Homo sapiens: one gene and its partner. The protein of the gene in region 2 purifies or fractionates together with the protein of the main gene of each other region. This does not show direct contact. Each region holds a gene or a part of one and is shown on either strand. Other genes may lie near its edges.

Region 1 (6,980 bases), on a different chromosome or scaffold from region 2:
CAAAGCCGCCCCCACCCCCACCCCACCGCAGCCTCTGCCTTCACCACTAGGGGTCTGTCTCTCCAGTCTCTGCAGGGAGGCCACCTTCCCTGGGGCTCTCCCAGACTCTGGCTTACTTTACTCAAGTGGTCCTCAGCTCCGATACTAAGATTCAGTCTGTTGAACTTAGGAGGGTACCAACCCACCACCCTGGCCCTGACCCCAGCATCTTTTCAGACCAAACCTGGCAAAGCCAGCTCCTCCCTATCCCACTCCAAAGCTGTCCTCCACTCTCCGTTACAGAAACACCTGCCAGCTCACTCCCTGCTAGGATTCCGAAGTCCCTCCAAGCCCTAGGTCGGCCTGAGCAGCCTCAGCCAGTAGGAGCTCTCCTATGGGAATGAAGGCTGGGAGCATGTTTAGAAAGCAAAGTCCCCAAGTTTAGGATGAGCCCCTCACCCCCATTCCTTTAAAAAAGAGCTTCCCTTTCTGCCTCCTCACTTCCTTCAGCCTGGGAGGGTTCCACTCCATAATTGGCTTGTTTACTGCCACTTTGAGGGTTTCTGAATGGCAGAGATGGGAGGAAAATTTTGCTGGAAGAAAAGGAGTGTGTGCCTTGAGCTTTGAGGCTGATGAGTAAACCCTCCAAATGCCTCTCTAACTACCTGCGAAATGGCCAAGAACCCAGGTGAGAAAAAAACACAAGGCAGTGCAAGGCAGCTGAAGATTTCCAGCAGACCACTGGAGGGAAGCTTACGCTGGCGCCACAATTACCAAAACTTAATCTGCTTGCTTCTGCTGAATAGTCGAAAGCGCTACTTGGCATTGTTCTGAGAAGCGAGCCAATTAGAGACCTCCCAATTCTGCTTCTGTGGGCTAGCACCTCCAGTAACATGACTCCCCTGCTCAAAAACCTGTAGCTCCCAAGCTGGGAGCAAACTTAGCGTCCACCACCGGGCCCCAAACTACTCCAGCCATTGACCACTAAGCATCAGAGCCACTATACCCACCAAACAGGACCACCTGCTGGGCCACAAGCACACTTTTGCTTCTCCACTCCGGTTCTCTGCTTGCGGGGTTCCCTCTGCCTCAAGCAGCAAGCCTCTCTACCTTTTAAGATTCTCCTCAAATGCTCCTTCCCCTGTGGATTCCCCAATTTCCCAGCCCCTTCCTGACTCCACCCCATACTCTAAATCTCCATCGCCCTGGCCTCTTTTCAGGCATCTGTCTTACTCTGTCTTGCTTCAATAGCTCCCTGAGGTCTTGCTCCAGCCCTCCAAGGGAGCGAGTATGTCTTATTCAGCTTTGATTCATCAGGAGCACACAGCACACTACCTGGCAGACGGCAGACACTTGAGAATGGGTCTACCGCTCCAAAATCGTTCACCTCAGAAGCATAGGAAGCGATAGGCAAAGGGACACAGAGTCACACAAACAGAACACTAAAGCCAGCAGACACAAAACACGCCAGGGGAAAAGAGGCGTCAAGAGGAAATTGAACCAGGGGAACTACATCTGGCCTTACCCTTCTTGAACTCCTCCAGCATGGCATCCAACTTGGTGTCATGGAAGACAAAGTGCACCGGGTGGTTATAGAAGCGAGTGATAGTCTTGAGGGGGGTGCAGTCATCGGGGTCCACAAAGGCCAAGTCTTTGACGTAGAGAATATCTACAATATTGGACTGCTCGTCTTCGAACACCGGGATGCGAGTATAGCCGCTTTCCATTATCTCCGACATGGTGTTGAAGTCCAGGATGGCATCGCTGCGGATCATGAAGCAGTCCTGGAGCTGGGTCATGATATCCTCTACAGTTTTGGTCCGTAGTTCCAGGGCACCCTGGATCATATTGAGCTCCTCTTTCACGAGGTCATTATAGGGCTCCGTCACCTTCAACATCTCCATCAGCTTCTCCCGGTTGTAAACAGTGCGAATCTCCTGGCCCAGAAAAAAGTCCAGGAGCTTGCTAATGGGAAAACTGAGGGGGAAGGTGAGTAGCATAAAGAATTTGGTGAGAAGGATGGTGTTGGCACCCACAGCCAGCCCATGTCGGGAGCACAGGGCCTGAGGTAGGATCTCCCCAAAGATGACAATGCCAATGGTGGAGGAGGCCACCGCCATGAGGCCGGACCCGATGAGGTTGTCTAGAAGGATTGTGAGGGAGGTGTTGACCAGCACGTTCCCTAGGAGCAACGAGCAGAGAAGGTAGTTGCCCTTGCGCCGGATGGGCTCAATCTTGCGGGCATAGCGCCTCTCCTTCTCGGTGCCACAGTTCTGCACGATGCGCAGCTCCATGGGGTCCAGGGCCATAAGCCCGAGGTTGAGGCCAGAAAATATGCCCGACAGCACCAGCAGCACCGTAATTAGGAGAATGTGCAGCCAGAGAGGCAGGAACCTCCCAGGCTCCTCCACCATGAAGAGCAGTGAGTCCTTGTCCGTCCACTTCAGCCAGGGCCCGTCGGGCTGGGCCCGGGTGCACAGTGCATACAGCTTCATGCTCTCGCTCCTCCGGAGGAACTTGGTGAGCACCACCAGCACGCCGGACGTGTTCCCGCGGCTCACGTTGACCAGCTGCTGGACGACCAGGTCCTTGGTGAGCTCGAGGCAGCTGGTGGACTTGTGGAGGGTCTCGGCATCGTCCACCTCGGTGAAGGAGATCAGGTTGCTGGAGATGTTGCCCAGGCTGTAGCCGTACAGCCTCAGGTTCACGGTGCTGCCCTCGGACACGAAGATGATGCCATCCGGGTTCGTCCCACACGACTTGTTGCAGCTCGCCAGCCTCATGCCCACGATCGTGCCCTGCTGGGGGCTGCCCTGGCCCCGGGCCCCCAGCGCCCACAGCAGCACCAGCAGCACCGGCGCCGCCAGGAGGAGGCGCCCGCGGGCCGGTCCGCCGACCGGGCGCCCGCCCCCGCCCACCGGCGCCATGTTGCTCTGGCTCTGCCGCCGCCGCCGCTCCCCGCGCCACGCCGCGCGGCCCCGGTCCGCACCGCAGCTCCGGCCGCTCCGCTGCCGCCGAGCCAACTGCCCGGGCCGCGAGCCTGACGTCAGGTCAGCGCCCCGCCCGCCCCGCCCCGCCTGCCCACGCCCCTCATTTGCATTGGAGGCCCCGCCCCCGGGGCTCGCTGCTTGAGCGCCCGCCCTTAAGGGGGTACAGTCGCTTAAGGTGGAGCAGCGCCGCCGCGCGAGAGCCGCCAGCGGGTACCCGCCCAGTGCTCCGCCTCCGCGCCCTTCCCCGCCTTTCTCTGCCAGTGGGGCCAGCTCTCCTTCTCCGGGACCTGGTCTCCTAGCTACGCCGTTCCTGTTCCTCGGCCTCGCACGGCCGCACGTGGGAGGCTCCTCTCCCGTCCCTCACCTGCAGCTAGGGGTGGCCCGCTCTGCAGGCAGGGCGAGAAAAGTGCTTTTCCTGATGTAGAAAAAGAAAAAGGAAACCTGAGGGCTTAGGCTGGCATTGCAGCCTGCCCCTTGGAGACTTTTCTGGCCTCCTCACTGCTGAGATTTTTGCCGACCTTGTCCTAAGGCCAGAAGTAGGTTACCCCAGCCCCAGCCCCAGCCCGACGATGCTTCCATCAACCAGTGGCTGCCTGATGTGGAAGGCAAATCTGGGGAACTAAGGTTATAGAAGGGGCAGGCTCTGGCCTAGACTTCTCTCCTGTCTCTTCCATTTAGGCATAGATATTTATTGAACACCTACTTTGTACCAGGCACTTGTTCTAGGCTCTGACAATAGAGCAGTGAACAAGCCAAAGTCGCTGCCCATTGGGGTTTACAGTCTAGAACAGAAAACAGGAGATAAACAAGTAAACACATATATTCATTAAATCCCCCCAACAACCCTCAGAGTTAGTAGAATTATTTCCATTTAGAGATGCAGAAATTGAGCCGAGACAAAAATCCTGGTGCCTCCATACTGTCATCTCCCAGCCCATTTCTCCATCTGTAAATGGGGGTAAGAATGACAGAGCATTACTTCGCTAAGCTTGCGGGATTGTGGACCTAGACATTGAACATGACAGGACAGCTCTTTAGAATATTCTTTGGCTAGGTAGTAGTTGTTGCTACCTGCCTTCCAGGACCAAACTCCTAACCCCAAATTGTGGTGATTGATCAGCTGGGCAGCTGCTTGTGGACATGAGCAGGCAGGCGCGGCAGTGGGCCTATCCCTGAAATGACTGCTTCCTGAATGGCCCTAGCCCTGTGTCAGTAGGGTGTATAAGGAAGACCACAGCTGCCCGCCCTGTGAGGGGGAAGAAGACAGACAGATAAACATCCTTACAATAATTGCACAGGTGCACAGAGAAGATCAGGTACTGGGTTGACCACCAGGTCTCACAGCAAATCTTTTGCCAGTACTGAAGACACAGAACCCACTTTACTCCCTTCCCGCACTGACACTTGTATTTATTTTCATTTTGGTGTAATGTTTGCTAATAAAAGCAGCAATCAGTACCAAACGGAAGGAGCCTAAACAGAAAGGATCACACAATGTTGTGGGAGGAGGTGTGGTAGCAGAGAGGCCCTGACTCAAGAAAGCCCTGTTAGCTGGGATTGAGGGTTCTGTAAACTAGGCCAGCCTGGAGAAGTATGTTGCTAGTAGGGGCCCCACTCATAGCGGATACTTTGCAGTGAGTGCCCAGCAGGTCAGTTTTTTCGAGGAATAGGAGCCTTGGAATGGGCACTGGCTGAGACAGAACAAAAGCAGAACCTTGACTGCCTGTTCCTTCCCTGTCTCCACCAACCAGGAAGAGCTACCTGAATTGCCTCAAAGCAAACCCAGCTCTCCTCATCTCCTAGTGAGCTGTAACACCAGCGCCCTGCTCCACCCCTACCCCCACCTCCCATACTTAGAAACTTTCCCATTCTATTATCAATCAATTGGCTATTTTTTCCCTTTTTCTTATGATTTTATTTTTTTCTCTATTATGTCTTTTTTCTGCTTAAGTACGAATTGGCTCCTTTTATTTTACCCTTTTCAGGCTGTCTACACTCAGAAGCTCTGTTCATATGCACTGAGTCTAATGACAGAAGCCAATAAAGAAAAGGAAAAATAAGTTTTTTAGATATTTAGGTTAAATGTGGGATTACCAGCTTGGGCAACATAGCAAAAACTCATTTCCACTAAAAATTTAAAAAATAAAAAGTTAGCTTGGCATGATGGTGCACACCTGTAGTCCCAGGACCTTGGGAGGCCAAGGCGGGCAGATCACCTGAGGTCAGGAGTTCAAGACCAGCCTGGCCAAGATGATGAAACCCCGTCTCTACTAAAAATACACAGTTAGCCAGGTGAGGTGATGCACGCCTGTAGTCCCAGCTACCCGGGAGGCTGAGGCAGGAGAATCACTTGAACCCGGGAGGCGGAGGTTGCAGTGAGCCGAGATCACGCCACTCACTCCAGCCTGGGTGACAGAGCGAGACTCCATCTCAAAAAATAAATAAATAAATAAATAAATAAATAAATAAATAAATAAAAATAAAAAGATAAACACAGTATCACTTGTTGGAGAAGGCACACGGGGCCCAGGCCGAAGTCCAGGTTCATTTGCTGCCAGCTTGCAACCCTGGTTAGGGAGTCTGCCTTTTCTGCATCTGCCATGTCGAAATACCTCTCCCACCGTAGGGACAGCATGGAGATAGCAGTCTATTAACATGCTGAGTCAGGAAGCTTGGATGCATGTGTGGCTCTCTGTTAGCCAGGCGGTGAGAATGGCAGAAAGCAAACGTGCAAGCGAGGAGCCTCTCTCCTTTGGGGGCAGATAAAGGCATGATCAAACCTGTTTTCTCTGCCTCAAGGTGGCAAGTCCTTACTTACCTAGTTGCTTCTATTTGCAAGTAGAAATTGCCCAGAGGAGTCCTGATCCTGGACCCCTGAGCATGTAACAGCACCCTAGTCATGAGATCCTTGGAGCTCACTGCTTCTTTCCAGGTGTAAGCCCTATGGCAACATGGCTACACCTCCCATAATTGAGCCCACTCCCTTCTGGTTCTGTGCAGGGAAACAGTCTTAAAGGCTTAGTGCCCCTTCACTTGTACCTGGCATCATGCTGATGCTGGAGATCCGATGATGAACAAGGATCCTGAATTAGTAACCTGGGATCTAATCCTCCCAGGCTAGCTTCTTAGCCCTCTTCACCCTCTGGGTCTCCAAGATGGGGTGCTGCTGGCAGAGGAGCTGCTGGCAGAGAAGCTGCTGGCAGAGAAGCTGCCCTTCCGCTAGTGGGGCTCAGAGCCTGAGGCCTGCCCTGGCCCCACAATGGGTAGAATCCCTCTGGGTGCACCGTGGGCCCCGGGGTTGGAGAACCTGGTTGGGGACCATGAGACATCTTTTCAGGGTGAGCTATGCCCGTCGTCAGTACATGCAGTGGCCTGTTCACCGGCTGCCCATGAGTCTACTATGATAGCCCTGAACATCTGCAGGACTCATCCATGCAGTTAAATTGTCTCAGGAAGGAAGGAGCAGTCAACCCTCTACAGAAGGACAGAGTTAGCGTGGAGTTAGCTAGGGTGGTGCTCAAATCCCAACTCAGGTCATCCCAGCAAGTGGGGGCATGAGGACTTGGATAGGAGGATGTCATGATTTCTGCCTGAGACAAATGTTTAATTGAGCCAGAGGAGGGAGTGAGAGCATCACATCAGTGGGTCCAGGCCAAGGAAGTCGAATGCCAGAGCAGCAAAGGTGAAGGGGTTTGTATTAACTATGTAAGTGGGCTTCAAGCTTCCTCTGGCCATAGGACAAATTGTTTTTCTTGGGAGCAGGACCATGGAAGGCAGGATACCCCACCATGGAGGTTCAGAGCACAGCTTTGAAGGACCCTGGGGGCTGGCTTGGCTGCTGATTGCCTGTGTGACCTGGGACTCTGGGACATTCTCGAGTGTTGAGTGAAATGATGAGCCATAAGTACTTCACAAGTGCCTGGCCCATAGTAAGAGCTCAATAAACATGCCCAGTCACCATGATAATGATGAAAATGATGTGGCCAGGATCATTTTTTTTCTTTTTCTTTT
Region 2 (7,024 bases):
CACAAAGGAGCAGAAAAACAGCTTTTCTAGATCAGTACACTAAACCCAGCCAAGAATCTGCAAAAATGCTACTACACCGCTTCACAAGCAACACAGTCCCTTCACTACTCATTGGGTTGCACGATGTCTCTCTTCTACCCTGTTATGGCCTGTGGACACATACTCACTAGGCATCATTGTTGGTTTTAAACCAGGGATTTTTTTTTTTTAATCTCAAAAAACCTAGTAATAACAAGGCAATCAGTGGTTAAACTGAACTTTACATATAGGGGGCAGTTTGGAAAACACATACCACAAGCATTTCTCAAGTCGAAAATATGTGAATTTGCTGCTGCTCCTTTGACGGTTCCTGAAAATTCAGAGTACAAGTCCTAAAATAAAAATTTTAAGCTACCAGCATTCTCTGATACTAGACAGAAAATCAGAGTAACGCTACAGCCCACAATTCTACAGGGTGTAAAAAGTACGCTCACTGCCTGGACATCTTTATTGATGGCCTGGAGTCCTCCCTTTTAGAAGACAAGTTTCTGGGATAACCACTTAGCTTCATTGGTTAGGGAAGAGAAGAATTCGACTCTCAGGTAAGTTGAGAAGAGACTCCTCTTAAAATGCCATTTCTCCACTAATTTATCAAAATAAAAACAAAACAAAAGGCTCTTGGCTACTTTGCCTAGTATTAGATAGGGTTTTGAAGAAACTAACATGAACACCCTTTCATCAGTAAAGACTAAAAACCACCTGGAAAATATATATATATATATATATATTATATTATATATATATATATATATATATATATATATATATATATATATATATATATATATATATATATATATCACTGCTGTTTTTTTGGTGTTGTTTTTTGTTTTTTTTTTTTTTTTATCTAAAAGTGCCCAGGTGGGCTTAAGGCTGCCAGACTGCACGCACATCTACAGCAACAAGGGCTTCTATTCCATCTACAACTTGGATCGGGGGAAAAGGGAGATGTAGGAGAGGAAGGAAAAAAGAGGGGAAAAATATACCACCAACCCTCCCCCACAAAAAAAGGGAAAAAAAAAATCCCACCACAGGGAGATCTATGTGCCAAGCATAATGGAAGAGTGTGCTCCCCAAACAGATGGTTTTGCACAGGCTAATGTTCTGCTGGTTTTCCTTAGAGACCTATTTTGAAAAAGTTTAAAAAGACAGGAGATTTCAAAATAATTCAATCCTGGCAGAAATTCAAACTCCAAAACTAGGAGCAAAATCATCCTTCACTGAATTAATTCCTTTTCTCTTTCTCTTTTCTTAAACATTTTATTCATTTTATAGAGAGATTTCTTTTTTGTTTGCTTTTGTTCCAATCATTAGGAGAGTGGTTGAGGAGTACTGAATCCATCACTACTTTGATGACACAGGTAATATTCCAGATTCACATTTCCAGGTACCAAGAGTTCCCTCTAAATGGCACAATCAAGTCAGCCTTCGTTTACATTTCCTTCTACTGAACACAGCAATGCCCATTGGTATCTCTGAAGCGTAATCGCATCTTAGGTCGGTATTTCTCCAAATAAAGCAGCTGTTTGGAATTGAACGCTCCCCTTCTTTTTCTGAAAATACAAGAATGGCAAACTTTATCATGTAAAAAAAGAGCTGTCTGATTCACTGAAATGCATTATTTACATCCTAAAGCCTTTCTAATTCCACACAGCTGAAAACCAGCATATTTCCCATACTACAACAATTCTTAAAGAGCTAAGTTGCAACATGAACTTTCTAAGCCCTCCTAGAAGGAATAGAAAAATTTTTCTTGCTGACTGTCATTATAGTCTATTAACCATTTAATAAAGATCAGAATAGTTTCTACTTTCGTTTTCTTTTTTTAAAGGAAGGGTTGAAAGGGAAAGGGCAAGACAAAAATTGTCAAAGAATTCTGGATAACAAAATAGCATGATTCGTTATTCCAGATCAATGTCAAGATCCTGTCTGTGCACTACCATCCTGATTTTGTCCCTGAATAGATCACTTAAGAGTCCCAGGTGAGGCCAGGCGTGGTGGCTCACGCCTGTAATCCCAGCACTTTGGGAGGCCGAGGTGGGCGGATCACGAGATCAGGAGATTGAGATCATCCTGGCCAACATGGTGAAACCCCGTCTACTAAAAATACAAAAATTAGCTGGGCGTGGTGGTGCGTGCCTGTAGTCCCAGCTACTTGAGAGGCTGAGGCAGTAGAATCGCTTGAACCCAGGAGGCAGAGGTTGCAGTGAGCCGAGATTGAGCCACTGCACTCCAGCTTGAGCAACAGAGCGAGACTCCATCTCAAAAAAAAAAAAAAGAGTCTCAGGTGATTAACTGCTCCTCTACACATTCTTCTTGCCTCCTCCTAACAGAGAATTATATTTGGAAGGTATTTGGAATCTATTAAAAGGGGCATTTTTGAGATTCCTAGATACTCAAAACAATATACTGGACACAGTCTATAATGTCCAAATTAGAAAACTTTTGAATCTGGAAACCAGCTGTACTGAGTCTCTATCACTTGCTCTAAATTTTTTACATCTTCAAATAATACTTCAAGCCAAAAAAAGCAAATTATCCCATACTATAAATGAATATCCCTTCCATAATTCCTTCCTCATGCATGATCTTGCTTTCTGTGTTTCTGAACACAAAAACTTCATACTCACTGTCTTATAAACTGAACTGCATCTTCGTACTTCATTCCACATTCAATCAAAGCAAGTGCAACCAGCACAGGTGCCCTGCAGAAAGAAACCTGTATGTAAGTATCCATAAGTCTTGGAGTGAAAGGATTTTTAAAAACCTGTAACTGCATATTACCAATGCAACGCATGAGCTTTCTTTTTCCTGTATACTAAAGTAGCTGGTATCTGCCTAATACAGTAAATATATCTCATCATCATTAATTCTATGATTTTTTTTTTTGGCGGGGCAGGGGACAGGGTCTCGCTCTATCACCCAGGCCAGAGTGCAGTGGCACAATCACGGCTCACCGCAGCCTCAACCTCCCAAAGCTCAGGTGATCCTCCTGCCTCAGTTCCTCAAATAGCTCGGACTATAGGTGCCCGCCACCATGCCCAGCTAATTTTTGATTTTTAATAGTTAGTAGAGACGGGGTTTCTCCGTGTTACCCAGTCTGCTCTTGAACTCCTAGGCTCAAGCAATCTGCCTGCCTCCGCCTCCCAAAGTGCTGGGATTACAGGCGTGAACCATAGCGCCCAGCCTGATTATCTACTTTTAGTAAAGCACTAAATTCTAAACCTTAAGAAATCTTTACTCTTTAAAACATCACATTATATATTAAATTCTCTCATCACTAGATATGATCAAAAATCCTTCATTGGCCTTTAGCCATTATCACAGTAAAATAAATGACCAAACATATTACTTATCTCCAATGTGTCAGAATTTTCATTACCAATTGATTTTAATATTTCCTTATCAAATGCTAAAAAGGTGCTAGACGTTTTCAAGAAAATCCTTTTGATGAGCTAGGAAAATGCCCAAGAATTGATGACTAGAAGAAGTTCTATCTTTTTAAAAAAATTTAACAAAGGAAATGATGTTTTTATAAAGCCCATTACAGGGCACCAATTTTGGGCTACCTAAAACTAGGATAGCTACTAGTTATAAAACTGCCAACTCACGTTACAACATTATCTTCAACCTTCAGGATAAGGACTAAAACTTCTAACCTTATGAACAAACAGTACCACACTACAAAAAAGGAAATAGCAAACAAAAGGGCAGAGCAGAACTAACAGCTTGAGTAATCACCACCTTGAGGCAATGGCAGCCTACACTAATGTTTTGAGTCAAAGTGTGCATCCTAAATTGGCATTTAATCTGCTGCTGATGACAGCGTTGCAACACCATTCTAAGCAATGCTCAGGGGAAAAGGTTTTAAGATCAAAGTCAATTCTTGTCCATACATCTTCTTTCAAGAGTTTAAAGTTCAGATATCTGCTATCTATTAACTTCCCATTCATCTCAGTCCAAAATTAACCATGTATAGATTCATCAAACTCTAAAATTATTTTAATTTTGTTGCCAATTTCAGTGACCTGAACTTTTGATTACTTGAAATAGGGAGAAAAATAAAACACCCACAATCCAGGCTGGCATCAGAATCAGACAACCAGATGAAATGAACAGGCTCTTTTGAGAAATCATTACACTAGTTTTTCCTCTCATTTCCTTTCCTTTCAGGTAATTTAATGTTATTTAGTATAATATATGCAAATGTCTACCAAAGTGAAACTTTCAACTAACTTAGGCATGGTAATGAATTCAGACAAAAAGGGTAATAAAGGTAAGAGTTTACCTTCCCAATCCTGCAACACAATGCACTGCAACACAGCAACCTGGCTCTTCACGAAATTTGGTTTTTAACAGGTTTAACCAATCATCTACTATCTGATTAGGGGGTGGAGCTCCATCATCAAATGGCCAATCCTGAAAAGAAATGACCTTTTACATTAAATTGATATTTTCTCCATGATTAACATCCTAATACAGAATACCTGCACACAGTACACACGGCAGGCCTAACTGAACTAACTGCACTATATATACCTATTGTTAACACAATTCTGATCATTGCTGTAAAATGATCCAGGATTGAAATTAAAGTTTGCCAAATAAATTACCCTTCTCAATGCAGTGTCGCACACATCTGAATTTACAAAAACTTACAGAAATCTCTATCAGAGTCATAAGAGCTAGTGTTCTCCCAAAAATGATATCTGAATAGAGTAGTAATTAGACATAATAGACAAAACTGTAATTAAAGCCAAGACAAAGTAACAGAGGACACAGCACATGTCAACATGATTTAAAAGTCCACTCTGGCAAAGCATACCAACTGGTGTCTCATTGGTCTCTACAGATAATTGAAGATTATAATTCAAGATAACTAAGTTATGACATCTTTAGAGAAAGGTTATCTGATAAGAAATCTCCAATAGTTAGTAAATCATAACAGAAACAAACTACCATCTTTGTGCTTATTAAAAGGCAAGCAGTGAGTATTTTTAAAGTGCTTACTAAATTATATATGTCCCCATTTAACAAGGACAGGGCTGCATGACAGGGTCCTGGGCAAATGGAGACCATTTTGTCAAGTATCCCTTTCTCTTTCTGTATTCACCTATTTGGGCTATCTTTCAATTAAGACTAATCCCACGAGCATTCACAGTATAGGCAGGGGTTTATCTTCCTCACTACTTAGCAAGAGGTCCTAAGAAACCAACACAAATGGGGAGTGGAGGAGGGGGACTGGGGGCTGACATTTTACAAGCCTTCCCTCCTGCCATCTAAGCTTCAAAGATAGAAATGCAAAAACACTGTTAGGAATTTTTTTAAAAACATAAGGCTATTCTAATGAGATTGGATAAGGACACTTTAAGATATTAGGGGAGGAAAAAGAGAAAAGTGACAGAGCATTAAATTGATTCTGCATTCATTATTGGCACCACTAGAACACTTCATGTAGCCCATTAGCCAAAACAGTACATGATTGAGTTGACAACTACGCCCCATAATTAAAGGACTGTGTTATTATAAATGTCACTAGAGAGTTTAACTGTAAATAGCAATAAAACCAGTACCTTAGTCAAGAGCTTACTTCCTCTAATACTCCCTAAAATGCACCTAGTTAAGAAACAATATAAAACATGCTTCACTTACTCATATAAGTAGTGTCTATTTTTAAAAAAATCATTAATCATTTAGAAACATCTGAACCTCAAATTGATACAGCTAAAACCACCATTAGTCTATTCCAATGTGTGTCTGGTTTGCAAGAGCATTCAGAGGACTGACAGGCCTTATTTGGGGATATCCTCTTACCATGAAATGTTCCAAAACCCTCCTCACCTAGCAAAATTAGATTAACTCTTAAAATCTCTGTCTGGGAAAAGGAAATTCCAAGCTTAAGGCTAAATGCCCTTGTTTTTTCAAGTGTAAGTTAAACCTTTCATTTTATCTGATCATAGCTATTTATTTATTTGTTTGTTTGTTTGTTTTTAATGACTTATTTTCCTCTGGGTAGATACCCAGTAATGGGATTGCTGGATCAAATGATAGTTCTACTTTTAGTTCTTTAAGGAATCTCCACGCTGTTTTCTATAGTGGTTGTACTAGTTTACATTCCCACCAGCAGTGTACAAGTGTTCCCTTTTCACCACATCCCTGACAACATCTATTTTTTTTTTTAATTTTTTGATTACGGCCATTCTTACAGGAGTAAGGTGGTATCATATTGTGCTTTTGATTTGCATTTCCCAGATCACAGCTATTTAAAACAAAACAAAAACCTAAATTTAAAGGCCTGGAATAAATCTTAGGCCTACCATTATCTTCCTCAAACTAGTTCAAGTTCTTTAGTTCATTTCTATTTCACAAAGATGTTTACCAACATTACTGACTCAAACAGACTATGGTCAATCCAGTCATTTTCTCACTCTGCCATCTGTCAAAACAAGTTGATTTTTGCTCACTAGAGAACATATTCATAATGCAGCAAAATAAACTTGTATGCAGCTTATTTTCGGAAGTTTAAATTTTATTACTACTTTTTAAACACAGGGCTGCATTTGACATGTTTACACTCATTCCCAGTGATTTCCAGCAGTGGACAGTAAAGTCATTTAGAAATTTGACTGCAAGCAAATTATTACCATGCCAAACTATTAAAACACATTATTGACTGATTGACTGACAAGGTCTCTGTCACCCAAGCTGGAGCACAGCAGCACAATCATGGCTCACTGCAGCCTTGACCTCTCGGGTTCAGGTGATCCTCCCACCTCAACCTCCCAAGTAGCTAGGACTATAGGTGCATGCCATCACGTCCAGCTAATTTTTGTATTTTTCGGAGAGACAGGGTTTCACCATGTTGCCCCACTAGTCTTGGAACTCCTGGACTCAAGTGATCCACCTACCTTGGCCTCCCAGAGTGGTGGGAACAGGCATGAGCCACCACACAGGGCCCTAAAACACATTTTTTTAAAACACATTT

The links. The genes of interacting proteins can lie anywhere in the genome.
Region 1: the proteins of PTP4A2 (region 2) and CNNM4 purify together in Homo sapiens (affinity purification with mass spectrometry; 7 studies listed by BioGRID and IntAct, with this or other methods). This does not show direct contact.

What each region holds. Positions count from the first base shown.
Region 1 is NC_000002.12:96,756,926-96,763,905, reverse strand, and holds the start of CNNM4 (metal transporter CNNM4 precursor), read right to left. Parts: upstream 3,005-6,980; 5' UTR 2,907-3,004; coding exon 1,505-2,906; intron 1-1,504. UniProt on the Homo sapiens protein: Probable metal transporter. The interaction with the metal ion chaperone COX11 suggests that it may play a role in sensory neuron functions. May play a role in biomineralization and retinal function.
Region 2 is NC_000001.11:31,907,369-31,914,392, forward strand, and holds part of PTP4A2 (protein tyrosine phosphatase type IVA 2), read right to left. Parts: intron 4,459-7,024; coding exon 4,328-4,458; intron 2,745-4,327; coding exon 2,670-2,744; intron 1,593-2,669; coding exon 1,484-1,592; 3' UTR 1-1,483.